4 linked regions of the Homo sapiens genome follow. The protein of the gene in region 1 interacts with the protein of each later gene in a pairwise test. Each region holds a gene or a part of one and is shown in the gene's direction. Other genes may lie near its edges.

What was found.
Region 2: the proteins of EIF2S3 (region 1) and WBP1L interact in binary tests that used the Homo sapiens proteins (3 or more experiments, as listed by UniProt).
Region 3: the proteins of EIF2S3 (region 1) and PELI3 interact in binary tests that used the Homo sapiens proteins (3 or more experiments, as listed by UniProt).
Region 4: the proteins of EIF2S3 (region 1) and OTUD7B interact in binary tests that used the Homo sapiens proteins (3 or more experiments, as listed by UniProt).

The regions. Positions count from the first base shown.
Region 1 is NC_000023.11:24,050,847-24,057,955, forward strand, and holds the start of EIF2S3 (eukaryotic translation initiation factor 2 subunit 3), read left to right. Parts: upstream 1-4,109; 5' UTR 4,110-4,122; coding exon 4,123-4,191; intron 4,192-4,768; coding exon 4,769-4,832; intron 4,833-6,574; coding exon 6,575-6,702; intron 6,703-6,786; coding exon 6,787-6,908; intron 6,909-7,109. UniProt on the Homo sapiens protein: Member of the eIF2 complex that functions in the early steps of protein synthesis by forming a ternary complex with GTP and initiator tRNA.
Region 2 is NC_000010.11:102,746,940-102,753,966, forward strand, and holds part of WBP1L (WW domain binding protein 1-like isoform 1 precursor), read left to right. Parts: intron 1-7,027.
Region 3 is NC_000011.10:66,463,054-66,469,904, forward strand, and holds the start of PELI3 (E3 ubiquitin-protein ligase pellino homolog 3), read left to right. Parts: upstream 1-3,851; 5' UTR 3,852-3,974; intron 3,975-4,076; exon of another isoform or gene 4,077-4,505; intron 4,506-5,074; 5' UTR 5,075-5,075; coding exon 5,076-5,227; intron 5,228-5,779; coding exon 5,780-5,851; intron 5,852-6,851. UniProt on the Homo sapiens protein: E3 ubiquitin ligase catalyzing the covalent attachment of ubiquitin moieties onto substrate proteins. Involved in the TLR and IL-1 signaling pathways via interaction with the complex containing IRAK kinases and TRAF6.
Region 4 is NC_000001.11:150,007,713-150,014,625, reverse strand, and holds the start of OTUD7B (OTU domain-containing protein 7B), read left to right. Parts: upstream 1-3,899; 5' UTR 3,900-4,178; exon of another isoform or gene 4,179-6,913. UniProt on the Homo sapiens protein: Negative regulator of the non-canonical NF-kappa-B pathway that acts by mediating deubiquitination of TRAF3, an inhibitor of the NF-kappa-B pathway, thereby acting as a negative regulator of B-cell responses.

The DNA.
Region 1 (7,109 bases):
TCACCGCGAAGATCTGCAGCTTCACTCCTGAAGCCAGCGAGACCATGAGCCCACCGGGAGGAACGAACAACTCCAGACGTGCTGCCTTAAGAGCTGTAACACTCACCGCGAGGGTCTGCAGCTTCACTCCTGAGCCAGCGAGACCACGAACCCACCAGAAGGAAGAAACTCCAGACACATCCGAAACATCAGAAGGAACAAACTCCAGATGCGCCACCTTAAGAGCTGTAGCACTCACCGCGAGGGTCCACGGCCTCATTCTTGAAGTCAGTGAGACCAAGAACCCACCAATTCCGGACACACTAGGATTATAGGCACGAGGCCACCATGCCTGGCCTGTATTTTTTTTTTTTCCTCTGAGACAGGGTCTCACTCTGTCAGCCAGGCTGGAGTGCAGTGGCGCTATCTCGCTGGAGTTGTTTTTTTTTGTTTGTTTTTGTTTTTGAGACGGAGTCTCGCACTGTATCCCGGGCTGGAGTGCCATGGCACGATCTGGGTTTACTGCATCCTCCACCTTCCGGGTTCATGAGATTCTCCTGCCTCAACCTCCCGAGAAGCTGGGATTACTGGCGCACAGTACCACGCCCGGGAAATTTTTTTGTATTTTTAGTAGACAGGTTTCACTATGTTGGCCAGGCGGGTCTCAAACTCCTAACCTCATGATCCACCTGCCTTGGCTTCCCAGAGTGCTGGGATTACAGGCGTGAGCCACCAAGCCCGGCCGGATTTTTTTATTTAGATAAAGTTCACATGTCCTAAGATTCACCACATTAAACTGTACAATTCACTGGTTTTTAGCATATTTACAAAGATGTGCAATCATCACCACTGTATAATACCCCGGCATTTTAATCACCTCAGTGTGTTTTTGTAATTGGCTGGTATAAATATTTAGAATCTAAGATTAAGGCGGGGCGTGGTGGCTCAGGCCTGTAATCCCAGCACTTTGGAAGGCAGATCACTTTGAAGTCAGGAGTTTGAGACCAACCTGGCCAACAAGGTGAAACCTTGTCTCTAGTAAAAATACCAAAAAATTAGCTGGGCGTGGTGGCGTACACCTGTAATCCCAGTTACTTGGCAGGCTGAAGCACGGGAATTGCTTGAATCCAGGAGGCAGAGGTTGCAGTGAGCTGAGATTGTACCACTGCACTCCAGCCTGAGCGAGAGAGCACGACTCTGTCTCAAAAAAAAGAAAAAAAAAAAAGAATGTAAGATTAAAGTGATTACCTCCAGTTTTCACCATCACTTAACTAATGCATGCATTTATTGAAACATAACTTCCTATTTTAGCTAAATTGTTGTACCAAAAATTTATGTGATATAAAACACGTATTCATATAAATTTTACTTAAGTATTCAATGAACACACAGATAACCTAAATTCTATTTTTTTTTTTTTGAGACAGTCTGGCTCTGTTGTCCAGGCTAGAGTGCAATGTCTCAATCTCAGCTCACTGCAACCTCCCCCTCCCAGTTTCAAGCAATTCTGCCTCAGCCTCCCGAGTAGCTGGGATTACAGGTAGTGCCACCACGCCCAGGTAATTTTTCTATTTTTTAGGAGGGTTTTTGCCAGCTCAGGATTTTGGTCAGGCTGGTCTCGAACTCCTGATCTCAAGTGATCAGCCCACCTTGGCCTCCCAAAGTGCTGGGATTACAGACGTGAGCCACCGCACCCGGCCCAGAAAACCTAAATTCTTATTCACCTCTCCTTACATTTTTTTTCTGGTTTAAAATAGCTGTTTATAAAAAACAACTCCATTAAAAAGTGGGGAAAGGACATGAACAGACACTTCTCAAAAGAAGGCATACATGCGGCCAACAAACACGGAAAAAAGCTCAATATCACTGATAATTCGAGAAATGCAAATCAAAACCACATGAGATACCACCTCACACTAGTCAGAATGGTGATTGTTAAAAAGTCAAAAAACAAAAGATGCTGGCGAGGTTGTGGAGAAAAAGGAACGCTCTTACACTATTTGTGGGGGTGTAAATTAGTTCAACCATTGTGGAAGACAGAGTGGCAATTCCTCAAAGCCCTAGAGGCCGAAATACCATTAGACCAAGCAATCTCATTACTGGGTATATAGCCTCTAAAATATAAACCATTCTGTTATAAAGATACATGCACACATATGCTCACTGCAGCACTATTCACAATAGCAAAGACGTGGAATCAACCCAAATGCTCATCAATGATAGACTGGATAAACAAAATGTGGTACATACACACCATGGAATACCATGCAGCCATAAAAAGGAACAACATCATATCCTTTGCAGGGACATGGATGGAGCCGAAAGCCATTATTCTCAGCAAAGTAACGCAGGAGCAGAAAACCAAATACCGCATGTTACCACTTATAAGTGGGAGCTGAGTGGTGAGAACACATGGACACATGCGGGGGAACAACACACACTGGGGGCTGTCTGACGGCTGGGGGTGGGAGGAGAGAGAGCATCAGGAAGAACAGCTAATGGATGCTGGGCTTAATACCTAGGTGATGGGATGATCTGCGCAGCAAACCACCATGGCACACAGTTTACCTATGTAACAAACCTGCATATCCTGCGCATGCACCCCTGAACTTAAAAGTCGGGGGGAAAAAAAAGAGAGGTAGCAATTATCACCTTAATGAATTCCTTTCTTCACTTCTCATATTGCCCCTCATTTTCCCTAATTTCCCTCATTTTTTTCATTTATAATATATATATATTTTGAGACGGAGTCTCGCTCTGTCACCCAGGCTGGAGTGCGGTTGGCGCGATCTCAGCTCACGGCAAGCTCCGCCTTCCGGGTTCACGCCATTCTCCTGCCTCAGCCTCCGGAGTAGCTGGGACTACAGGCGCCCGCCACCACGGGCGGCTAATTTTTTTTTTTTTTTGTATTTTTAGTAGAGACGGAGTTTCACCATATTGGCCAGGCTGGTCTCGAATTCCTGACCTCGTGATCCACCCGCCTCAGCCTCCCAAAGTGCTGGGATTACAGGCGTGAGCCACCGCGCCCGGCCTCATAATATTTATTTCCTAAATAAGCTAACTTGATGACTACTTACAAGTATTCTAAAGTGAGCTTGGCTTCTCAGTATTCGTCATTGTGGCTTTCATATTATCTTTTCACTTCTCTTTACTATACTTTTGCATAATAGCTGTCTAACAAGTTTTTATGGAAATAAATTTATTGCAAACAAAAAAGGAAATAGCTGTTTATGATAAAATTTGTATAGAAATGCAAGGAGAAAAACAAATCACTCAACTGCTTTTCAACACGACGAAAAGTGGGTTAAGGTCTCAAAATTCTTTAAATTTTAAAATACCGATTTATCGGTAATCGAGGTTTTTTTGGATCTGCTTCTTTAAGAAAAAAAAAAACAAAACACACACACACAAACCAGCGAACTTCAGACGCTCTTACGACACCTAGCTATATTCACTGGGAACGCAATCTAACGTCACCAAGGCCCACCTCCCGGGCCCTAGAAATCGCTCTCTGGGAACAAGCTGGGGACTTTGATTTTGCTAGCCCTGCCCCTCTGAGCCCTTCACCAAACTTCCGCGCGGGGGCGCCCGCCCCACCTCCCGCCGGGGCTCAGCACGCGGCCTTCTCCCAGCCAAGAGCCCCGTCATAGGTGGGCGCCGACCCCGAGCCGATCTCGCTTTATTAAATTACAGAAATCGGTATTCAAAAAAAAAAAAAAAAAAGGGCGGGGAGGACACTCCCTCTTCTCTGTTCCCACACCCTAGCTGATTCCCAGGTTTCGGGAAACTCCACAGGAAACGGAAATGGTCTCTCCCAGGCCAGCGCGCGCGCCGGGTTGCATCACCCGCCTCGCACGGGCCGGCGGGGCGGGGGTTTGGTGGCTGCCCTCAGTATTGCCTGCACAAATATCTACCAGGTCTGCGACGAATAGCTCCAGCAACTTCGCACCGTGTTTTCCACTCAGCCTACCGACAGGCACTGTGCAGATTCAAGCGGAGAGATGTCCAAGCAGTGAGGCCGCTGCTGCACCGGCCATCCTGAGCCCCTACTCGGCCTTCCCGTCTCCGCTTCCCCGCCCCGCACTAGGACCCCTGCAGATGATCAGGCGGCAGCCGGGGTGATTTCCTTCCTCTTTTGGCAACATGGCGGGCGGAGAAGCTGGAGTGACTCTAGGGCAGCCGCATCTTTCGCGTCAGGATCTCACCACCTTGGTGAGGTTTTGCTTGGGGAGGATGCAGAGTGAGCTCAGGAGTGGAGGTGACCGAGCCTCCCGGTGGTATTGGGACTAGTCAGTGTCGGGAGCATGGGTCAGGAGCCTGGGTCAGGAGGGAGACCTGGAACTGGGCGCCCTAAGCCATGCTCGCGCCGCCTGTACCCAGGCCAGTCCACGATCTGGGCGCAGGCGTGTACGGTCGTGGGACTTCTAGCTTCTGGAGGGTTCGGCTGGAAAGTCTTGATGTTGATTGTCATGGTTTCAGCCTCTGAACGTCTGGGAAGGGGGTGTCCTGTCTGCATTACTTTTAGTGCTAATGTTCCCAAGATTGGGGGGATCTCTGACTTCCAGATATCCCCTAATAGTTGAGTGGAGGTGTAGTCTGTTGTGTAATGATGAAGGGCTCTTAACAGCTTCCCAGCCATAGGAGTACAAAGTTACTGATAGGGAAAAGGAGCTTTAGAAGTAGTGGAAAGCTGTGCAGATGGTGGCAAGATGTAGATAGCAAACGTAAAGTCAAAGGAAAAGTTCTCATTTGTTTTACGTGCAGTGTTTTAAAATATATTTCATTGCAGGATGTTACCAAGTTGACGCCACTTTCACACGAAGTTATCAGCAGACAAGCCACAATTAACATAGGTAAGAGTAACTTAAGAGACCTAACCTTGGTCTCCAACAATTAATTTTAACCTCACTTTTTGTGTGATTACTTGAATAGTATGAGGATTCAGATATTCAAGAAATAGATACTGAGTCCTTGTGAATAAAGCATCTGCTACATTTGCGGTGCAGGGGGAGCACAAAGAATGCTGCCCACATGTAGCTTACAGACTCGGTAAGAAGAAAAAATGGAGACATAAGAAAAGTTTAATAGCATAAGGCAGTATGTAGTCATATGTAGCAGAAGTTTAAGGAAGAGGTGAAAAATGTGGCTGTACTTGACACACAGGATTATTTCAAGGGCAGAATTTATGAAAGTTTTATTTGATGTACAAGCTGTGATTAAATAGAAGGTTTTTTTTCTTAATTGGCACCTAGAACTTTAGAGGAGAAGTTACGTTGACTGAGTGTAAATTTTGGACATTTTGAGTTTGTACAAACAGCACAGTTTGTACGAAAGTAAGTTAAAAAGTACAGAAGTAAGTTAAAAAGTAAGACTAGTTTTTAACCTAGTTAAAAAGTAAGACTCCACCATGAGGCTATTAAAGTTACAGTATTACAGTCTGGAGCTTTAATTTATTAATGCAAACAAAGCCCAAATAAGCCTACAGGCCTTGAACTACTGCCCCTGCATTAAAAATTTTGGTTGAGGTGACCTTGGAGCATAACCTAACCTCCGAACAACCTATGCTAAGACTATACCAGTTAAAGCAAATTACTGTGCATATATTGACCCAATAATTTGATCAACGGAACAAGTTGCAATTAAACTTAGGTTGTTTCCTTGTTTGTTCACAGATCCCTTTTTGTTGTGTCAGGGCCCATCATACCTGTTTAATCTGGAAATGCTGGAAGGTTCCTTAATATATAAAGTTCTGGCCGGGTGCAGTGGCTTATGCTTGTAATCCCAGCCCTTTGGGAGGCCAAGGCAGGTGGATTGCTTGAGCCCAGGAGTTGGAGACCACCTGGGCAACGTGGCCAAACCCCATCTCTACAAAAAATACAAAAAATTAGCTGTGCGTGGTGGTGCATGCCTGCAGTCCCAGCTACTAAGGAGGCCGAGGTCGGAGGATTGCTCAAGCCCAGGTGGTTGAGGTTGCAGTGAGCTGTGATCAGGGCATTGCATTCCAGCCTGGGCAGCAGCAGGAGACCCTGTCTGTCCCAGAGTATATTTTTTAAGTAAAGCTGTTAGTTACATGGAAGTTTCTCTTAAGTCCTATATGAGAACACGTTTCTAGTAGGAAGGGGTATGGAGGAGGAAAAATTGAAGTCACTGTTGGTTTTATGTTGATATTTACAGCAAGTTATGGCTTTGGCTTTAATTGTATTTATTTATTTATTTATTTATTTGCGACGGAGTCTCGCTCTGTTGCCAGGCTGGAGTGCAGTGGCACGATCTCGGCTCACTGCAGCCTCCACCTCCTGGGTTCAAGTGATTCTTTTGCCTCAGCCTCCCCAGTAGCTGGGACTACAGGCATGCGCCACCACGCCCAGCTAATTTTTGTATTTTTAGTAGAGATGGGGTTTCACCATGTTGGCCAGGATGGTCTTGCTCTCTTGACCTTGTGATCCACCCACCTCGGCCTCCCAAAGTGCTGGGATTACTGGCGTGAGCCACCGTGTCCAGCTGGCTTTGGGTTTTCTACTCTTAACACTATTTGAAAAAATATTTGGTATGTAATTAAATACACATGAATTAATTTTTTGAACTTTGTCCATAGGTACAATTGGTCATGTAGCTCATGGGAAATCCACAGTCGTCAAAGCTATTTCTGGAGTTCATACTGTCAGGTTCAAAAATGAACTAGAAAGAAATATTACAATCAAGCTTGGATATGCTAATGCTAAGGTAAGCTGTGTACTGTGGAACGAGAAACTAACTTTAATTGTTGTGCAGATAACAAATCAAAATCTTTTTTTATTGAAATTTTAGATTTATAAGCTTGATGACCCAAGTTGCCCTCGGCCAGAATGTTATAGATCTTGTGGGAGCAGTACACCTGACGAGTTTCCTACGGACATTCCAGGGACCAAAGGGAACTTCAAATTAGTCAGGTGACCTCTCTTTTGCTACAAACACTACACTTTATATTTTATTGTCTTCTGTTTTGTGCTTTTTGAAATATCGAGGTGTTAAACGGTGAACCTAATGGCTAAATGGTTTTGTTGTTTTTCCATTGTTTATGTTTTTATGGGAAATCTGAAAAGTCAAGCATCTAAACCTAAGTTAAAATACTTACATGCAATTTCTCCAAA
Region 2 (7,027 bases), on another chromosome or scaffold:
CCATTTCTTGTTTATGCAGGCAGGCCCTGGAAAGTTCATCAGCTAGTTCATTCTGTGGTTAGGAACTTAGACTTAACTCTCCTACAGGTTATGACATTACAACTCACAGACGTGAATCCTTAAATCTATAAAGAATGAAAAAGGCTGGGCATGGTGGCTCACCCCTGTAATCCCAGCACTTTGGGAGGCCAAGGCAGGCAGATCACAAGGTCAGGAGATCAAGACCATTCTGGCCAACATGGTGAAACCCTGTCTCTACTAAAAATACAAAAATTAGCCAGGCATGGTGGCACACCTGTAGTCTCAGCTACTCGGGAGGCTGAGGCAGAAGAATCGCTTGAACGTGGGAGGTAGAGGTTGTGGTGAGCCAAGATCATGCCACTGCACTCTAGCCTGGTGACAGAGCGAGACTCCGTCTCAAAAAAAAAAAAAAAAAAAAAAGAATGAGAAAACAGTAGATGCTCCAAATAGTAAGGCTCCGACAGCCTTGGCGTTTGTTTCCTCCAGTTAAATTATCATTGAGATACATAGAGTTTCTTTTGGTTGTTTAGATTTAACCAGAATGTTTGTTTTTGTTGTTGTTGTTTTTGTTTTGTTTTTGAGACAGGATCTCACTCTGTTGCCCAGGCTGGAGTGTAGTGGTGTGATGTGATCTTGGATCACTGCAGCCTCGACCTCCCAGGCTCAAACGAGCCTCCCACCTCAGCCTCCTGAGTAACTGGGACTACAGGTGCATGCCACCACGCCCTGCTAATTTTTGTATTTTTCTGTAGAGATGGGGTTTCGCCATGTTGCCCAGGCCGGTCGCAAACTCCTGGGCTCAAGCGATCTGCCCATCTCAGCCTCCCAGAGTGTTGGGATTACAGGCATGAGCCACTCTGCCCAGCCTAAACAGAATATTTGACTATGTTATTTAAAACAAAGTTTTGGTAGAAATGTCTTTTTTTAATAGGGTAACTCAGCCAGTGGTTTAGGGACAAATCTCTAGAGATGCAGTCCTTACCTTTCCTTTGCCAGGCTTAAAACTTTGAGCTGGGCCTGGCACGGTGGCTCACACCTGTAATCCCAGCACTTTGGGAGGCCGAGGCAGGCGGATCACGAGATCAGGAGATTGAGACCATCCTGGCTAACACAGTGAAACCCCGTCTCTACTAAAAATACAAAAAATTAGCTGGGCATGGTGGTGGGCACCTGTAGTCCCAGCTACTCGGGAGGCTGAGGCAGGAGAATGGCGTGAACCTGGGAGGCGGAGCTTGCAGTGAGCCGAGGTCGCGCCACTGCACTCTCCAGCCTGGGCAACAGAGCGAGACTCCGTCTCAAAAAAAAAAAACCAAACAAACAAAAAAAAACTTTGAGCTGGATGGGGGCCTCAGTTCCTGCTATTTTTTCCCACCTCACCCTCAATGGTATACCCTTTGGTTCCCACCTTACCTTTACTCACCTCCATTCCCAGTTTTCAGTCTGGAAGCCCTACTCCATTCTCCTTTCTTACAAATGGTATTTCAATGCCATCACCATCATTCCTCCTTATACAATAGTGGGATTCGAGACTTCCAGATTCTAATCCCTTTTACCTCACCTGCTTAGTGCGTTTGATGTACCAAAGTGTAAAATCAGCACCTTGAGTTTCTGCAAACTCTTTCAGTGGAATTCAGTAGGCATCAAAGAATGGACATTTACTGAAATGTCTACTCTTTGCAGCAGGCTATTATTGCTAGGCCCTGGGAACCATCAAATGAGTATGGAATCCCTGTTCCCCAGGAGCTGGAAATCTTGTGGCAAGGACAGATAGCGCACACAGTGAATTGTAATCCAGAGGTTTTGCTGAAATGGAAGTACAAACAAAGGACTGTCAGCACAACTGATTCTGCTAGGGCAAGAGGAAGATGGGGTGCTAAGAAGAACTTCATTAAGGAAAAAGCATTTGTTCAGGACTTTAAAGGTTGATAAGCATGGGTAGAGTATGGACCAGGAAGGGGAAAAATGGATTCCAGTGTGGAAGAATGAAAATGGAGAGTGTGTTTGGAGGTGACATGTACTCTGTGGCAGAAGCTTTGTGTGTGGATGTGTAGAGGAGTGTGGAAGTGGGGGAGGCTCGAAAGAGAGGCTGTTGTCACATGGTCAGGAGGCCTTTCATCCATTCATCTAAGGCTGCACCATCCAGTAGAACCTTCTGTGATGCTGGAAATGATCTCTCTCTGTGCCGTCCAATTCAGTAGCCACTTAGCCAGGTGGCTGCTGAGCATTTGAAATGTGGCTAGGATAACTGAGGAACTGAATTTTGAAACATATTTAATTTTGAAACATATTTGTTTATTTACATATTTTTATTTTTTAGAGACAGAATCTTGCTCTGTTGCCCATAGGGTTTCTGTCGCTGGAATGCAGTGGTGTAGTCGTAGCTCACTGCAGCTTTGAACTCCTGGGCTCAAGCGATCCTTCTGCCTCAGCCTCCCAAGGAGCTAGGATTGTTGGTGCATGCCACCACACCTGGCCCTATATTTAATTTTTTTTCTTTTTTTTTTCTCTCTAATAAAAAAAATTTTTTTTTAAGTAGAGATGAGTGTCTCACCATGTTGCCCAGGTGGGTCTAGAACTCCTTGGGCTCAAGTGATCCTTCCACCTTGGCCTCCCAAAGTGTTTGGATTACAGGCGTGAGCCACCATGCCTGGCCTAATTTTTTTTAATTAAAAAAATTTTTTTATAGAGCAGAAGTCTCACTATATTGCCCAGTCTGGTCTTGAACTCCTTGGCTCAAGTGATTTTCCTGCCTCAGCCTCCCAAAGTGCTGGGATTGCAGGCGTGAGCCACTGTTCCTGGCCCTCCATATTTATTTATTTATTTATTTATTTTTTGAGATGGAGTTTCATTCTTGTTGCCCAGGCTGGAGTGCAATGGTGCAGTCTTGGCTCACTGCCACCTCTGACTCCCGGGTTCAAGGGATTCTCATGCCTCAGCCTCCCAAATAGCTGGGATTACAAGCACTGCCACCATGCCTGGGTAATTTTTTTTGTATTTTTTTTGTAGATACGGGGTTTCACCATGTTGGCCAGGCTGGTCTCGAACTCCTGACCTCAGATGATCTGCCCGCCTTGGCCTCTCAAAGTGTTGGGATTACAGGCGTTAGCGACCACGCCTGGCTGCCCATATTTAATTTTTTATATCAACTTTATTGAGATATAATCAGGTCAGGCGCAGTGGTTCACACCTGTAATCCCAGCACTTTGGGAGGCTGAGGCGGGTGGATCATTTGAGGTCAGGAGTTCTAGACCAGCGTGGCCAACATGGTGAAACCTCATCTCTACCAAAAATAGAAAAATTAGCGTGCACCTGTAATCCCAGCTACTCAGGAGGCTGAGGCAGGAGAATCGCTTGAGCCCCATAGGCAGAGGCTGCAGCGAGCCTAGATCACGCCACTGCACTCCAGTCTGGGCGATAGAGTGAGACCCTGTCTCAAAAAAAGAAAAAAAAACTTTATTGAGGTAATTTACATGCCAAAAAAATTCACCCTTTTAAAGTATACATAAATTGGTGTTTCAGTATAGTCACAGAATTTGTGACTATCAGTGCTAATTTTAGCATATTTTCTTTTTTTTTTTCTTTTGAAACGGTGTCTTGCTCCGTCGCCCAGGTTGGAGTGCAAACTCCGCCTCCAGAGTTCAAGCGCTTCTCCTGCCTCAGCCTCCTGAGTAGCTGGGACTACAGGTGCCCACCACCACACCTGGCTAATTTTTTGTATTTTTAGTACAGATGGGGTTTCACTGTGTTAGCCAGGATGGTCTCGATCTCCTGACCTTGTGATCCGCCCGCCTCAGCCTCCCAAAGTTCTAGAATTACAGGTGTGAGCCACCACGCCCGGCCCAATTTTAGCATATTTTCTTTACCCCAGAAAGAAACCCCATAGCCATTAGCAGTCACTTCCCTTTCTAGCCCCTTTTCTTCCATCCCTTAGTGACCACTGATCTACTTGCCATTCCTATGGATTTGCCTGTTCTAGACATTTCATATAAAGTGAATGGTACACTATGTGGTCTTTTGTGGCTTATTTCACTTACCATAAGGTTTTCCTTTCTTTTTTTGAGACAGAGTCTCACTCTGTCACCCAGGCTGGAGTGCAGTGGTGTGATCTTGGCTCACTGCAACCTCTGCCTCCTGGGTTCAAGTGATTCTCCTGTCTCAGCCTCCTGAGTAGCTGGGACTACAGGTATGCACCACCATGCCTAGCTAACTTTTGTATTTTTTAGTAGAGATGGGGTTTTGCCATGTTGGCCAGGCTGTTCTCGAACTCCTGACCTCAGGCGATCTGCCCGACTTGGCCTCCCAAAGTGCTGAGATTACAGGTGTGTGCCACTGCGCCCAATCAAGGTTTTCTTTTTTCTTTCCTTTTTTTTTTTTTGAGACACGATCTCCCTCTGTTGCCCAGGCTGAAGTGCAGTGGTGCAATCTCAGCTCACTGCAATCTCCACCTCAAGCAAACCTCCTATCTCAGCCCTCCTAGTAGCTGGAGCTACAGGTGCGCACCCACACCCAGTTAATTTTTGTATTTTTTGTAGAGATGGAGTTTCACCACGTTGGCCAGGCTGGTCTTGAACTCCTGGGCACAAGCGATCTGCTCGCCTTGGCCTCTCAAAGTGTTGGGATTACAGGTGTGAGCCACCACACCTGGCCAATGTGATATTTACTTAAAATAATTTAAACTAAATAGCTGTATGTAGATAGTGACTACATATTGGAGGATACTGATCTAACAACTTTCCAGAGTAGGGATTTGGTACAGTCAAACCTAGTGGTCATGTCATGAGCTCTGGGGTCAGACCACCTGAGTTCCAAATTTGATACTGTCCTTGAGCAAGTTACATAACCTCTTTGTGCCTCAGCTTCCTCATCTATAAAATGGGAATTGTACTAGTATGGGGTTGTCATGAGGTGAAAAGACATAATATATGTAAAGCTCTTGGAATATATTCAATGATTAATAAGTATAATAATAATTATCACCATTATTGCTGTTGGCAGTCCTCAGAGTGTATTATGGTTTGTAAGTTAGTGTCAACTCCCAGACTAACTTCAGGAACTGAGATCTGGAGATTTTGCAAGTGACTTTCTTTATTCTGTTCTATGTCTGAATTTAGGTTTGGGGAGAATTTTGTCCTTCCAGAGGACATTAGTCACTGTCACAGCTTGGGAGTGCCACTGGTATCTAGTGAGTGGAGGCCAGGGATGCTGCTTAGCATCCTGGAATGCTCAGGACAGCCCCCCACGACAAAGACTTTTCCAGCCCAGAATGTCAGTGGTCCCGAGGTGGAGAAATCCTGGCTTAGTGGGACCTGCTGTGGCCTTACCAGGTCCTGTTCATTATTGCAGAGCTTGGGGTCAGCTTTCTTGCAAGAACAACATAGCATTGTGAAGTGTATGAAATAACCTTGGACAGCGAGTTTTCGGTGGGACTTGAAGCTTTGATATGCCGAATCTCACTGCCTTTCAGGTTTGTTGATGTATGTGGTCAGTCAGCTCTGTCTTGTCAGCCAACATCAAACATTTTGAAAACACGTTTTTTTGATTTGTGATTCAGTAAGCAGGTGAGCCTCCCTTATTTACCCCATCTTGAACTTTCTTTCCTCTTGCTTTGATCTGCTCTGTGGTTTTATTTTAAGAACATGATTTGCTTTGCTCCCAGTGAAAGCCTGATGGTCAGTTATTTTCTGTGTCCTCCATAGTCCTGCAACCAATCTGAACTGAGTCATGTTCTTAGAACTTTTTCCTTTCCCCATTCCAAGTCCTGGCTCTACTCTGATTTTCGGCCTCAGGAATGTTGGTTTGCTCTCACGCACGCTTAGCCTGTGGAAATCATTAGGTGTTCTCAGGGTCTGTCACAAGAGAAGCTAAGTGTCCTGGACCTCAGGGTGGCTGTGTCTTGAGGAGAGTCCTCTTTTCAGGCCCCCAAGAGGCAGCTCATCTGTGGATGTTTGAGCCGTCGGGTCTTTGTTGTTGTCATGGGTATCTTGCATGGCTTTGGATTCAAAACTTCACCTGTCTTTTGAATGCCTGTCCACCCATACCCTTGAGAGGACCTCTTGCTTTCCTGCCATCAGCTATTAGGACTAACACTTGGGAGATCATCAGGTTCCAGGTGGTAGAATGGCTTGGGTTGGTTCCTTGCTCCTACTACCCCATTCATGGACACCACTGGGGCCGCTGATCCCACTGTAACTGCACAGCCAGTAAGAGCAGCCACTGAGTGATGGATTATCCTGCCTCCGCCTCTCAAGTAGCTAGGACTACAGGCACACGCTACAGCAACAGAGGGTCTTGGTGGCTTCTCTCCTTGGTGGCATACAGTAGACAGGCTGAGGTCTGGTCTGTGGGCACCTCCCTTTTGAAACATCCTTTTCAGTTCCACTAGGTGGAGCAAAGTCTGGCCTGAAAACTGCATGCTATGTGGAAACCACAAAGAAACACAAGTAAATCCAGAACATTGCAACCTGGGAGGTCAAGAAGGGGGAAACAAATCCCATCCTATTGAATTTTAAGGCTTGTTGATACAATTCTGAGCTTTCCTGATCTGGGGATTAAGTAGGTCATCCTCTCAGACTTGCAGATCACCCGTCTTGCATGGTCTGGGTTTTTGGGATATGCTTGCTTACTCAGTTACATTCCCATAGCTCTGATTTATTTACTTTTGGTTTTCTCCTTTCCACACTTTCTTCTGTGGGAAATCAGAGGAGTTGTTTTTCTTCTGCTCCTGGTGCTGTCGTCTTCACAGTGCCAAAGCTAAGTTTTGATTCAAGATCTCAGGTGTTTAAAATAATTTAACTTAAACATTTTTGGAAGAGGTAAAAATAAATGTAAGATGTTACAAGAATATCTGTGGCTTGGAAGGGTGGGTCCTAGAATGGAGAGTTACAAAAACATGTCTGTTTTGATTTTTAAATATCTAGCAAGACAAATGTTATGTTGTAACACTTTTATTACACATTCTTTCAGATCAGAGGCATGCATTCATGGAGAAAATATTCGTATTTTTCAA
Region 3 (6,851 bases), on another chromosome or scaffold:
CGAACCCTCAAACTTCTATAGACAGGATGCAGGCCAAGAAAATTACTCAGCTGCAAACACAGACTACCTTTTATGGAAAATGAAAGATGACTCAGGAAGTAGAACTAAGAGACCAAGAGCCATGGATTATTATTCTCAGGCCTTGCTTCAAGGGCTTTCCTCTAAAGCTAGAGACCGAGAACTGAAGCCCAGGTCGCCTCTGCTCTGGATCCCCAAATCCATGTGAGGGATCTGTCTTTTCCCAACCCCACCCTCCCCGTCTGGCATGGCCTCAAGGGCAGAACCTAGCATCTTAGCTCTTCCTTCTCCTCTCCAAATCTCCCAGCCCAGAAAGAATGTGCTGCTGTTGTTTTTTTCTCTTCTTAATTTTTTTTAGAGACAGGATTTTACTCTGTTGCCCAGGCTGGAGTGTAGTGATGTGATCATAGCTCACTGCAGTCTCGATCTCCTGGGCTCAAATGATTCTCCTGACCCAACCTCTTGCGTAGCTGGGACTACAGGCAGGCACCACCATGCCCAGCTAATTTTTTTAATTTTGTAGAGACAGGGTCTTACTATGTTGCCCAGGCTCGTCTCAAACTCCTAGCCTCAAGCGATCCTCCTGCCTTGGCCTCCCAAAGCATTGGGGTGAGCCACTGCGCCCAGCCCTGTTTTGTTTTTTCCACATGTTTTCTCAACTAGATATACAACTACTTTTCCAAACTATTCCAAGCCTCTCCCCTTCAGGCATTAGAACCCAAGAATTAAAGAAATAAAGTTTCGGCCGGGCGTGGTGGCTCACACCTGTAATCCCAGCACTTTGGGAGGCAGAGGCAGGCGGATCACAAGGTCAGGAGATCGAGACCATCCTGGCTAACACAGTGAAACCCCGTTTCTACTAAAACTACAAAAATTAGCCAGGCGTGGTGGCGGGTGCCTGTAGTCCCAGCTACTCGGGAGGCTGAGGCAGAAGAGTGGCGTGAACCTGGGAGGTGGAGCTTGCAGTGAGCCGAGATTGTGCCATTGTACTCCAGCCTGGGCGACAGAGCGAGACTCCGTCTCAAAAAAAAAAAAAAAAAAAGGGGTATCTAGAACTAGAAATACCATTTGGCCCAGCCATCCCTTTACTGGGTATATACCCAAAGGATTATAAATCATGCTGCTATAAAGACACAGGCACACGTATGTTTATTACGGCAATATTCACAATAGCAAAGACTTGGAACTAATCCAAATGTCCAACAATGATAGACTGGGTTAAGAAAATGTGGCACATATACACCATGGAATACTATGCAGCCATAAAAAATGATGAGTTCATGTCCTTTGTAGGGGACATGGATGAAGCTGGAAACCATCATTCTCAGCAAACTATCGCAAGGACAAAAAACCAAACACCACATTTTCTCACTCATAGATGGGAATTGAACAATGAGAACACATGGACACAGGAAGGGGAACATCACACACCGGGAACCGTTGTAGGGTGGGAGGAGGGGGGAGGGATAGCATTAGGAGATATACCTAATGCTAAATGATGAGTTAATGGGTGCAGCACACCAACATGGCACATGTATACATATGTAACAAACCTGCACGTTGTGCACATGTACCCTAAAACTTAAAGTATAATAATAATAAAATTTTTTAAGAAAGAAATAAAGTTTCTATTTTATTCCTTTCTTTGAACCAACAGGGACAAGATCTAGATTGAAGAGAGAAAAGGGAGGGTTGACAAAGGAATTTCAAAGCAATACTGCAAAATCCTATTCACCACAAGTATCATTATTATTCCCATTTTACACATAAGGAAACTGAAGCTTAGTGAGATTAAGAAGCTGGAGTTCTTGGAGCAGAGCGCTGGATTTAGAGCCAGAAGCCAAGGTTGGAACTTAGGCATCTGCTACTGGTGTCCTAACTCTCCCTTCCTCTCCCTTACTTGGGCAATCCTGGTGTCGGGCCCACCTCAGCCTCCCTGAGGCCTGATGGTCTGGCTGTGCCACCATGCAGCTCCAATCCCAGTACTGCCCCAGGAGAAATCCCTGCCTCCTCCTCCAGTGAGTCTTGGTGATCCCTCTCAGACCTTCCTCCATGCAGTCCAGTGTCAGGTGGAAGCACTGGGGCTCCTGTGAAGCATCAGCTCCACATCTGCCTGGCTTGTGACCTGGGGCAAGTTTCTTCTTCTGCCTGAGCCTCAGCTTCCTGGTGTGTAAATTGGGGATTATAACAGGGATTCAGTATATATTCACTGAGGACCTGCTCTGGCAGGCAATGCATTAAAAGCTGGGGGTACACAAGGGAGTGAGGCTGTCCCAGGGTCCCCGTGCACACCCAGCACAATGGACGCCTCTGGTGGCATCAGTGAGGGCAGCTATCCTGTGTCACAGGGTTTGTGTGACCTGCAGCCAGCAGCCCAGCGGTCTGGTGGTGTCCTGCTTGGTGGAAGTCTCGCAGGGAGATTCTCTGTGACTAACGAGTGTCTTTTCCCCTAAAGGATGTGCCGTCGGCTGCTTTCTTGTTTCATCTAGCCGCTGGGCCCCAGAACAGTTGGCAAAGCAGTTGGTATCTTTGGCTATTTTTAGGTGGAGGAGTTAGCGGGGTGGATATAGTAGGGCCCCAGGGGAGTCTGGTAGATGGGGAACTTCAGGTGCAACAAGTTTGTGGGGGTGGGAGTGGCAGCGGCTCCCTCTCAGGAATGTTTAGGCAAACTAAACATGCATCCTTCATAATGGAAGTCAAAAGCCACCTCCTCTGTGCAGTCTTCCTTGATTTTCTCATTAAACACCCCCACCGCCCCCCACAAGACCAAAGACTTGATCTGGAACTATAATCCAGCCTTTATAGTTCCAGACCAAGAGTACTGAGCAATAGGGACCTTACCTGATGCAGACAAGGTTTCTCTTCTGCACCTCTGAGGCTCCATCCCTAGTCAGAACGACAAGGTACGAAGTTAGGAGTTGAGACTGAAGCCACTCATACAGCTGAGATTCTCTCTTGGCCCGTTTCTAGCAAACTACAACAAGCAAGTCACTTTTGTAAATCTATTTCCTCATCTGTAAAATGGGCAACTATCGTGCCTGCCTCCCAGGATTAAAGTAAAGGGTTTAATTTGCTCAAAGCACAGCGCACAGCGCCTAACGTAGACTGATAGATCTCTCGCAAGCCCCAGGCCCAGAAGGGGCGGTGCTCCCCCAAAACTCTCTTTCCTTTGCAGCACAGCGGGGGGTGTGTGCATCCTGGCGGAGGGGAGGGGACTGAGGGGAGGGGAATGGGGGGTGCCCGAGCTGGGCTGGAAGACAGGTCTGCGACTCTGGTCAACTGCAGCTGCTTTCCCCGGCCTCCACCGCTGCCGCACACCCCCTTTGCCTTTAGCATTTTCCTCCTCTCCTCTAATTGCGTGGCGTCCCCAGATGGTAGGCGGGGTGTCGGAGCTGGGGGTGCGTAGTCCCGGGCCTAAGGCTAGGGAAGGGGCCTCCAGCGCCGTGTGAGGGCCCTGACCGACAGTGGGGAGGGGCGCCCATGTCTCTGGGAGAACCCCGGAGTCCCCGGAAATGGAGGCGGAGTTTGGGGAGTCTGAAATGGGGGAGGGGTCGTGTAGACTACGGGGGAGTCCTGAGCCGGCTAGGAGGGGCAAGGGAGTCCCTCAGACGGAGTGGAGAGCGGGGCTTCCCTGGTCAGAGGGCGGTACCAGGGGAAGGGCGTGGTCTCCTGCGAAGGGGCGGAGCTCCGCCTACGAAGGCTGAGCATCGCCGCAAGAGGCGGAGTCTGGAGCGAGGCGGAGCTCTCCTAGGGGCGGGGAAAATGGGGCGGGGCCTCCGGACAGGGGGCGGAGCGTGGCTGTTCGCGCTCATCCCCCTCCCCCGGCCCTGGGTGTCCCCGTGACGAGGCAGCGCGGAGCCGCCGCGGGCCGGGCCCATCCCGCCGCAGCGGCCCGGGGCCGAGCAGGGGCTAGGCGGGGAGGGAGCGGCGCCCAGCGGGGCCCGGAGCGTGGCCAGGTGAGGCCGCCGGGGCGGAGGGGGCGGGGGCTGCGCCAGGCGGGCCCCGGCGGGCGCGGGGGGCGTGTTTGCGTGTCTGGGGGTGGTGGAGGGAGTGGGTCCGAGGGCGGGCGCCGGTGGCTGCTGCGCGCCCGCGCGTCCCTGCGGTCGCGGGTGCGGGTGGTCTCTGCGCCGTCCGGGCCCGGGGCGTGCGGGGCCGTGCACGCGCGCGTGTTGTGCGGAGGGGCCGCCGGGTGTGGACCTGCGTAGGTGCTGGGCCGCGGTTCCCGTTCTGCCCGCCCGGGGCGCAGGGCGCGGGCCTGCCCCGGCGCGGTCCCTCTGGCGCGGGGATGTTTTCCAAACGGGCTGCCTGCGGGAGACGGCTGTGCTGCAGCCCGAGCTCGAGGGGGGAGCGCCGCCTCCGCAGGCCTCCTGAGACCCGGGCGGCTGGGGACGCAGACAGACACCTGAGGGAGGGAAGAGCGCGCACCCAGGAGGAGTCTATTGGCCTACCCGCAGGGGGAGGCCGAGATGGGGAGACTGAGGCAGATGGTGAGGCGGAGGCGGGCAGACAGGCAGAGATGGGGAATGGGGGGAGAGAGACGGCAAAAAGGACAGCGGCTGGGAGGACAGAGAGTCATTGAGAAAGCAGATGGACAGACAGAGGCCTAGACCTCAAAGGGGCAAGAAAGATTCAGATGGACAGGTAGATTCAAAGAACCTGTCAGAGAGGCTAAATCAGAGGTCCAGAGGCTAAGAGCTATAAGCAGGAACTGAGTCTGAGATGAGGGGTAACGGCCCCCAACTCATTGGGTGCCCCGCTTTGAAGCACATCCCAGACTGGGATCTTGGCCAAAAAGCAGCCTCTGGCCACCCCAAGTTGGTCCATCTCTTTGGCACCACTGAATATCCTGACTCTCTTCACTGTGCCACCCCTCCCTGGTATCCCAGCAACCTCGGGCAGTTTAGAGGAGGCAGAGGGGAAGTGGTTGCCATAGCAGTAGAGGCGGTGAAAGGTCACCCTTGCCTTAGCCTAGGCGGCCCTGCAGCAGGCTGCAGCTGGAATTGAGCCGGGCTGGGGTGGGAACCTACAAAGCTCTTTTCTCTCCCACTCTGCCCAGAATGGTGCTGGAAGGAAACCCTGAAGTGGGGTCCCCCCGAACCTCAGACCTCCAGCACCGGGGGAACAAGGGCTCTTGCGTTCTCTCCTCTCCCGGTGAAGATGCGCAGCCAGGCGAGGAGCCCATCAAGTATGGTGAACTCATCGTCCTGGGGTGAGCATCCCTGGCCTAGAAGGGGTGAAGCACCAGACACCCACCCAACGCAGCCAGAACAAGGGCCCGACCCCTCCTCCCCCCACATAGGGCCTTCAGCTGTTTGTCCCTCCTCACCTTCCTAGCTGAAAGACAAAATTGACCAAACCCACCTCAATTCATAATTATTATTTTATCTTCCCATTTTTCACAAAGTACTGTGACAACTCTAACCACCCAACTTCCTGATCAGATGAGAAAAATGTTAACACCAGCTGCCTTTCCTAAAGCACCTAGTGTGTGTGGTGTGGGGTGAAGAACTCTGGTTCTCCAGCAAAACTGCTTGGTTCAAATCCTGCCTCTGCAAGTTGCTGAACTTCCCTGTGCCTCTGTTTCCCCTGTTTTGCAAATGGGGATGATAATAATCCCTTCCTCAGAGGGTTGTTGGAAGAAATGAATGAGGTGATTTCTGTAAAGTACATAGAACAGCGCCTAGCACATATCGAGTGTTCTGGGAGGCAGGCCTGTGCCAAGCCCTTTCATGGACATTATTTCATTTCAATCTTCACAAAGATGCTGTGAGGAAGGAGGTGAGGAAACCGAGGCTCAGAGAGGGGAAGTGACTGGCCCAAGGGCACACAGCTGGTAAGTGGCAGGGCTGGGATTTGGACCCAGGTCTTTCTTACTCTAGGTCTAGTGCGCTTTCACTAAGCCACAGCTGACCCTCACACTACAGATGAGAAAGCCAAGGCCAGGAGAGAGGAAGCAACGTGATCTGGCGGCCTGGCCAACCTCATCCCTTCCTGGTCTTTGCCTGACCAGGATCCCTGCACCATCCACTCAGATCTTTCCCCAGGGACAGACCCTCTTCCTCCTCCCCCATCTGGATCTCCTTTTGGCCTCTCTTTGCCATCAGTCCTAAAGAAACTATTTGATAAGCTATATTATCATTAAGATTTTTTTTTAATGGCTGTTTGTTGACACATGCTTTAAAAAAAAAAAAAGCAGTAATAGTGAACACTTATCAAGGGCTTCCTATAAATATGCCAAACTCTGTGCCAAGCGCTTTTAAATGCTTTGTCTCATTTAGTTCTCAAAATGAACCTGCGAGGTAGGTCCTAAAAAATTAGCTCCATTTTACAGAGGTCATGTGATAAGTGGAAGAGCCAGATTTAAGCCAGGCCCATCTGTGTCCCAAGCCTGTGTCCTGAACTGTCCCACCTCAAGACCTGCCCCCCATGTGTGAGAAGAGCTCACAAGGGCAAAAGTGATGTCTCCCTTGGGAGAAGCTGCCTTGGAAAAGCAGCTGCTTCATATCCCAAAGGCAGGACTGGCTTTCCAGCCCAAGGCAAGGCCACTAATGTGGGAGGCTGCAGACCCATGGGTATGGACCCTCCTGTCAGCCCCCTTGGGGAGCAGAGTCCACACTGGCTGCATATCAGAGCTGGCTGGAGGGCACTGAAAATACACATTGACAGGCCCTCTCCAAGCCTACAGAATCACAGTCGCAGTGGGTGGGACCAGGGAATCTGTTTTTTTTTTTTGTTTTTTTTTTTTTGAGACAGAGTCTTGCTCTGTCACCCAGGCTGGAGTACAGTGGCACGATATCAGTTCACTGCAACCTCCACCTCCTGGGTTCAAGTGA
Region 4 (6,913 bases), on another chromosome or scaffold:
CATTGTAAGAACAATATAAGTAATTTTCTGTTGGTGAACATTTAAAATGTTCTAGTTTGGAGCTATTATGAATAAAGCTATAGTGAACATTCACGTATAAGTTTTTTGTGTACACATATATTTCATTTCTATTGGGTAAATTCCTAGGGAGTGGAATTACTAGGTTTTAGGGTAGGAATGTGTTTAACATTATGAAACTTCCCCTCATACAGCTTTTTTTTTTTTTTTTGAGACACTTTCTCTCTGTCACCCAGGCTGGAGTGCAGTGGTGCAATCATGGTTCCCTGAGCCTCGATCTCCCAGACTCAAGTGATCCTCCCACCTTAGCCTCCCTAGTAGCTGGGACCACAGGCATGCACCACCATGCCTGACTAATTTTTTTTTATTTTTGTAGAAATGGGATCTCCTTATATTGCCCAGGCTGGTCTCAAACTCCTGTGCTCAAGCCATTCTCCTGCCTTGGCCTCCCAAAGTGCTGGGATTTCAGGCAGGATCCACCATGCCTGGCTGAGCCCCTACTATATATATATATATATATATACACACACACACACACACACACACACATATATATACACACACATATATACGTATATATACGTATATATGTGTGTGTATATATATGTGTGTATATATGTGTGTGTATATATATGTGTGTGTGTGTGTGTGTGTGTGTGTATATATATATTATTTTTTTTTTTTTTTGAGACAGAGTCTCACTCTGTTGCCCGGCTGGAGTGCAGTGGCGCGATCTCGTCTCACTGCAAGCTCCGCCTCCCGAGTTCACGTCATTCTCCTGCTTCAGCCTCCCAAGTAGCTGGGACTACAGGCGCCCGCCACCTCGCCTGGCTAATTTTTTGTAGTTTTAGTAGAGACAGGGTTTCACCGGGTTAGCCAGGATGGTCTCAATCTCCTGACCTCATGATCCGCCTGCCTCAGCCTCCCAAAGTGCTGGTATTACAAGCGTGAGCCACTGCTCCCAGCCGAGCCCTAGATATTTTTTTAAAAAATATGGATTCATGGTCTTCAGTTCCAAGAAAGAATTCTGCGTCAGTCTGAGGTTCCTAGGCATGTATAATATGTAGTTTTTAAAAACTCCCCAGAACCAATGGTCTAAATTATATTGGTGGCGGTGGAAAGGAAGTTATTTTGGTTTGGTTTTCTTTTCCACCACAAAAGCATATAAATGTAAATAGTTTTTTTCCCTGCCTAGCTACAACCTTTCTCTGAACATTTTCCCCAACTCTAGCCATTAGCCCCAGTATTGAAATAGTCTCTCTTTTTAGTTTCTCTGGTGAAATGCAAAGCTCTGGTTTTTCTGCTCTTGCTTAAAGTGATGTAAAAGCTCAGGGAGCTCCTTGAAGCAGCCCTTAGAATTGCTAAGACGAGTAAACAAAAACAGATCTCTAGGGTGGAAAAGAACTTTGGACAGAATAGCAGTTGAGGGTGTGTGGCCCTGTGTACACCGGTAGGATTTTGTCTGGTGCTTTTACCTTTTTTCCCTTACTATTCTACCTAGCAGCAAGAAATAGTCAACTGTGTTCTGGCTGCTGCCAATGTCTACATTAAACAGCTGCCTCTGAGCATCCAACCTAGTGCCAGCCTAAATGGCTGCATATCACTAGAGAAGAAGCCTCTAGTTTCTACGCAGAGAAACTGAGACACAGGAATGGGAAGGGAGTCACTTAATGGATTAGGGACTGGTTGAGCTGGGACCAGAACCCAGGTGGCCTGGCTCCCAGCCCAGCTGACCACACTGCTACCCACACAGCCTGGGCTGACCAAAGACAAGCAGCCCATTGAGCAACTGCACAAACAACAATGAATGATGGATGGTCAGAGCAAGAAATAGGCACAAAGCAACTGTGACCCCATCACTTCCTGGCCCCTAAATTTCCAGGCAAGCCTATAAAGTGTGGTCACTTAAATGACTTTGACCAGCAACTTGGCCCAGCTTTCAAATCTGGAGACCTTCTATGGTCACTGCCAAAAGAAAAAGTCTTATATTGAGGGTAGAGTGCCTTTGAGCTCCACGCCTGGTTCTATTAAGTCTGTGGCAGTGGCGTTAAGATTAGAAAGACATATTTATATGGGTATAACCTGGTTCTGGACAGCTGTGGTGAAACAAGGCAACTTTCAGATTTTGAGGCTCCTCTTCTACAGATCTGTGCTCCCATCTCAGATTTAACTAGCAAAGGGTAGGTGTGGTCAGTGATTGTTGTCACAATCATTCCAGAATGTTTGTGTAGAGTTACTAGAATTTCAGTCTTTTCATTCTAAAGTATTTTCATCCCTCTCACCTTTCTAGAACGACACCCTTTTCAGCTCCTTTCCAACGGCTGTAGCCAACTGATTCTACCCCAGAGTCCCAAGCGTCCACCCCCGTACCCTTCCAGTTCAGTTCAGTTAGAGTTCAGTTAGAGTCAATTTAGGTGACCAAATCTCATCCTGCTCTCCTCCTTAAATTTACCACTAAACGGTAGCTAAAATTTGTGGTCCCTTATACGCTTGAAGCCCACGCCAAATGACTTTACTTGTCAACCTCTATTGTATGTCTTGGATATGCCCCCATGCAAGGCACTCTGACTTGTTTGGCCTTAGCATGTGTGGACAGCCTTGGGCCCAGCCCTAAATTTTCGATTGTAAACCCAGGTGTATCCCTAAGAGATATAGCTGTCTAGGAAGTTTCCCTGTTTCAGGTGTCAGTTTCCTATTCTGAGCTAGACAATTCTAAAATGCCTATGCCCCACGCCTCCCCTTTAGAAACTGAGGAAGAAGTGAGGGGAAAGAAAAGTTGACTAGAGTATTTGTTTTTACATAGGCATAATGGGCACAATTAGGCAATACATTATTTTGAATATGCAGACCAGGTGCTATAATGTTAGGAATCTGAATTAAAATTTCAAATGTCTTTTGTTAGAGTATAGCCGGGGTTGGCATCGTTTTGTGTTTGTCATAAAGAGGTATTTACTAAATGGCCTTTCTTTCTTGAAACAGTCCACACAGGCCTAATACTTATTCATTCATTCAACAAATATGGAAGGTCTACTATGTGACAAGGATGGCTTATTATGTTCTCATAGCCATAGCTCATTGTCACTCAGGTAGGACACATACAAGTTCTGCTACATATAATATAGTTTTATGTATTTTACTAAATTGTAAAACCTTTGATGTCTGGGATTATGTCTTGTTAATTTTTGTATCCCCCTGTATCACTGAGAGCAGTGATACACATCACAGGGATACAATACATATTTGAATTATGCCATAATGTTTTAAAAGACATAACAAACGCACTAGAAGACATAACAAACGCACTATGTAAGTTTTTTTTACTGTTAGCAGTCTAAAGCAGATGTATCAACAGGGTATCACTGTTATGCAAGTAAATAAATATTAAGTGTTTACAGAGAAGGATATGTTCACTTCAAGAGTGAAGGAACAAGAGAAATATATAATTGGGTGGAGACTGGTGTGGAAGAAGCTAATCTTCCTCCGGTCACTCCAGAATGATTGTGTAGAGTTACTAGAATGTCAGTCTTTTCATTCTGAAGTATTTTCATCTCTCTCACCTTTCTACAACTACTCCACCCCTTTCAGCTCCTTCCCAACGGCTGTAGCCAACTGATTCTACCCCAGAGTCCTAAGAGTCCACCCTGTACTCCTCCAACTCCTGTTCAAGAATGCTCCAGACCAGGAGCTTTAGGGACTCGGGTCGGGAAAACACGGGGTCACGCGCGGGGCAAGCGCCAAACTGGCCGCAGCCTGGGGAGCGGCGCTAAAGGCGGGGCTGCGACGGGGCGGAGCGGGAGGAGGCCCGGGGGCGGCCTGGGTGTCACCACCAACCCGCTCCGGCCGGAAACTGGCGCCTGTTTCCGGCCGGACAGCAGAAAGCCACCGATCCTGAACCAGCCGCCGGAGCCGGAGTGGCGACCGGGTGCGGAGTGGGCAAAAAGCCACTGGGGGAGGCCAGTCCCGATCAGTCCTTTCTGGCTCCAGCTCCAGATCCCGTGCGGAGCAACAGCTGCGGTCGCAGTCTCCACCACCGCCTCCACCTCCATCGCCGTCGGGGGAGGGGCCGGCCGGACCCCGGGGTCACTGCCGAGGAATGAAGAGAGGCGGCCGGGCCCCGCGCTCCGCCCCGGCCTAGGGCCTTGCCCCGGGAGCCCGCGAGGGTAACGGAGCCCCCCGTCCTGACACCGTCCCCCGTCTGCTCCCGCCCCTCCCGGCTTCTCAGACTCGCAAACTCTGCTCCTCAGATCGCCACTGTCCCCTTTCTCCTTTCTGAATCTGTTTCACCCGAAGCCATCTCCCCTCGGCACTCCTTTCTCGCCCTGACTGCTCCTTGCTTCGTCCCGATCTTTCCTCCTCCCTTTCACCTGCGTCCTGCGTTCCTACCCCGCGCTCTCCAGCTCCCGGCCTCCCTTCCTGAGCTGTGCTGGCCAGTTTGGACGGTCCCCCCTTGTCAGCTAGACTTTCGGGAGGGATGGTGGAGTTTTAAGGTGATTAAGATGCAGTGTATTATCCCCACAGTAGGATAAAGTTCATTTAAAATCTCAATATAATACTAAAATGAAAAGCAAATAAGCTTATTCTTCCTATTGATAGCCAAACTAAGGTGCATACAGTAATGGAGGAAAGGCGAGAAAAAGGTGTGTGTGTGTGTTTGTGTGTGTGTGTGAGAGAGGGAGAGAGACGGAGGTTGACGGATTCTAGGGCAGTCTTAAGAACTTTAGAAAAAAGAAAAGTTGCCATGAGCCGATGGAAACTTTAGAAGCTGATGATGAGTAAGCCGGGGGCTGCGTGATCTCACTCTTCTCATAATTACTAGGTTAACGGTGTGGCTCCGGTCGGGATGGAATGGGATTTGTTTACTGGGCCGGCGTATTTTTAGCTTGTCGGCTCACAAGGACCAGCGCTCAGAGTCTCTTTCTCCCCGCTCGTGGTAGTCTTTCTTGTCTAACCTAGGTGGCTTCTCTGGGCACAATAAAGATGTAAAAATTTGAAATTAGAAACTGACTGGTGGAATTTTATGGAAGAAGTTCCCCACAAACTTTTCAGGCAGCTTTTCACGAATGCAAAGCCTAGAATTAGCAGGACGTTGACTTTTATTTTCCTTATCTTTTTATACGTACTACGTAACGCTTTGCTTAGAAATTCACATGCTGCTAATTTTTCAGTCTTTGGCCTCTAGTACTGTATATTTAGGAGATTTTTGAGGAGGCTGGATCCCTTTGTCTTTCAGAATCTATTTCAAAGGTGGAAAAGGACAGAGTAGAGAAAGAGGTGGCGGTAAGACTGGCTCCAAAGAGTTGCTAACCCCTAAATATTTAAAAAAGTTTCTATGCTATGTAACTTCTGAAAACATGTAGAAAATTTTCTTCCTACTAAATGAGATTGCATTCCTGATGGGGAGAAGACTTCAGGGACGGAAGCTGGGTGGCTAGGGAGAATCAGAGGTAGTTAAATATTTGCTGTGTATAACTTACAAATACATTATGCGCAAACAATGAAGAATTAATTATACGCTTTGTCTTCATTGTTTTTCAAGTAGTTCTTTTAACGTTCAGTAACCAACCTGCTGTGCTAGTCTATTGATATTTTGAAGGCTGAACAAAACTGTAAAATAAATGAACTTGATGTTGCTCCTCTGCAGGCTGAATACCCCCGACCGTTCTAATTTCCACTATTGACCCAGCTTGCCTCAGAGCACCTCCCTGACAAAGTGGCCAGTTACTATGTACTTAGAGATTGCAAATCAATGCAAATATTAGCTCATACTAGGAATAATTAAGAAGGTAAATATGCTGAAAACATATATTCCAAAACCAAAATAGATTTTTTCGATTTTACCCTCATTTTTGATTATCACCACCTTTCTGCCAATAATTATCCGTTAACATGAATAATTTAGAATTGAACAGATATCTGCTTTGGACATTACACTTTCAAGATAGAAGGAAAGATGGAAGGAAGATAGTGCCAAACTAATTTTTTATTGTCATTGCCTTATTTGACTTATTCCTTGCTTTTAATACTGAAGACTCCCTCGGAAAAAAATGTAAAACTTTGCCAAAGCAAGAGCTGGCTATCTACTGACTTGTATAAGGCCCGGTGACTGGTAATGAATGCTAATCATTAGGTGGCCTTTAGTGGCCTTATGTTGCCAACAACTTGGAAAATTTCCCAAAGCTTTATTTGTTTAATCTTTCTTTTGAGACCCCTATTTAAAAAACGACTTAATTTGGAGACGAAAATCTAATTTTTAAAAACCACATACACCTTTCCCAGAATCTGTTGATGATCAATAATTGTTTTGATCTGTGTGAGTTGATTGGTGCCAATATTAGTGATGATATCTGGGTAAATTCTATTTATATCTGCATCTAGCAACTCCCTAAGTTGAACTGCATACTTTATTCCAGGGCATGGGGATCAAAGGGGTTGAAGAAGCCTAGGAATGAGTGGAGAGCTGCCTGGTAGTCCACCACTATTCCTAGTTCTCAGGAGGCTTTATTTGCAATTTTGAGATTCAATGTATGTAACCAAAATAAGTATTCTGATTGTTATGAGGGCACTAAGTGCCACTTGTCAAAGTTTTGGAGCTCCTGAGTATCTTAAGCATGCTAAAAGACACTGGCCATTATAGTGTGGGTGTATGTGTGTATGAGTAGCACTCTCCTTACCCTAAACACTCATCCCACCAAAGGGAAAATCCTTAAACAGCGCTTTGAAATGTGACCTCAGCAGTATCTTTCCTATGGGAACTTAGGAGCTGTGGAATAGCAGACTGTGGAATCTTTTTTGTAGCCTCTGATAAATTCAGGTAATTAAAAATTTGTGTAACTGGAAGATAGATACAGGGCAGTTTTTCTCATGAATGCCTGAATTCAGTTGACTTTTTAATATA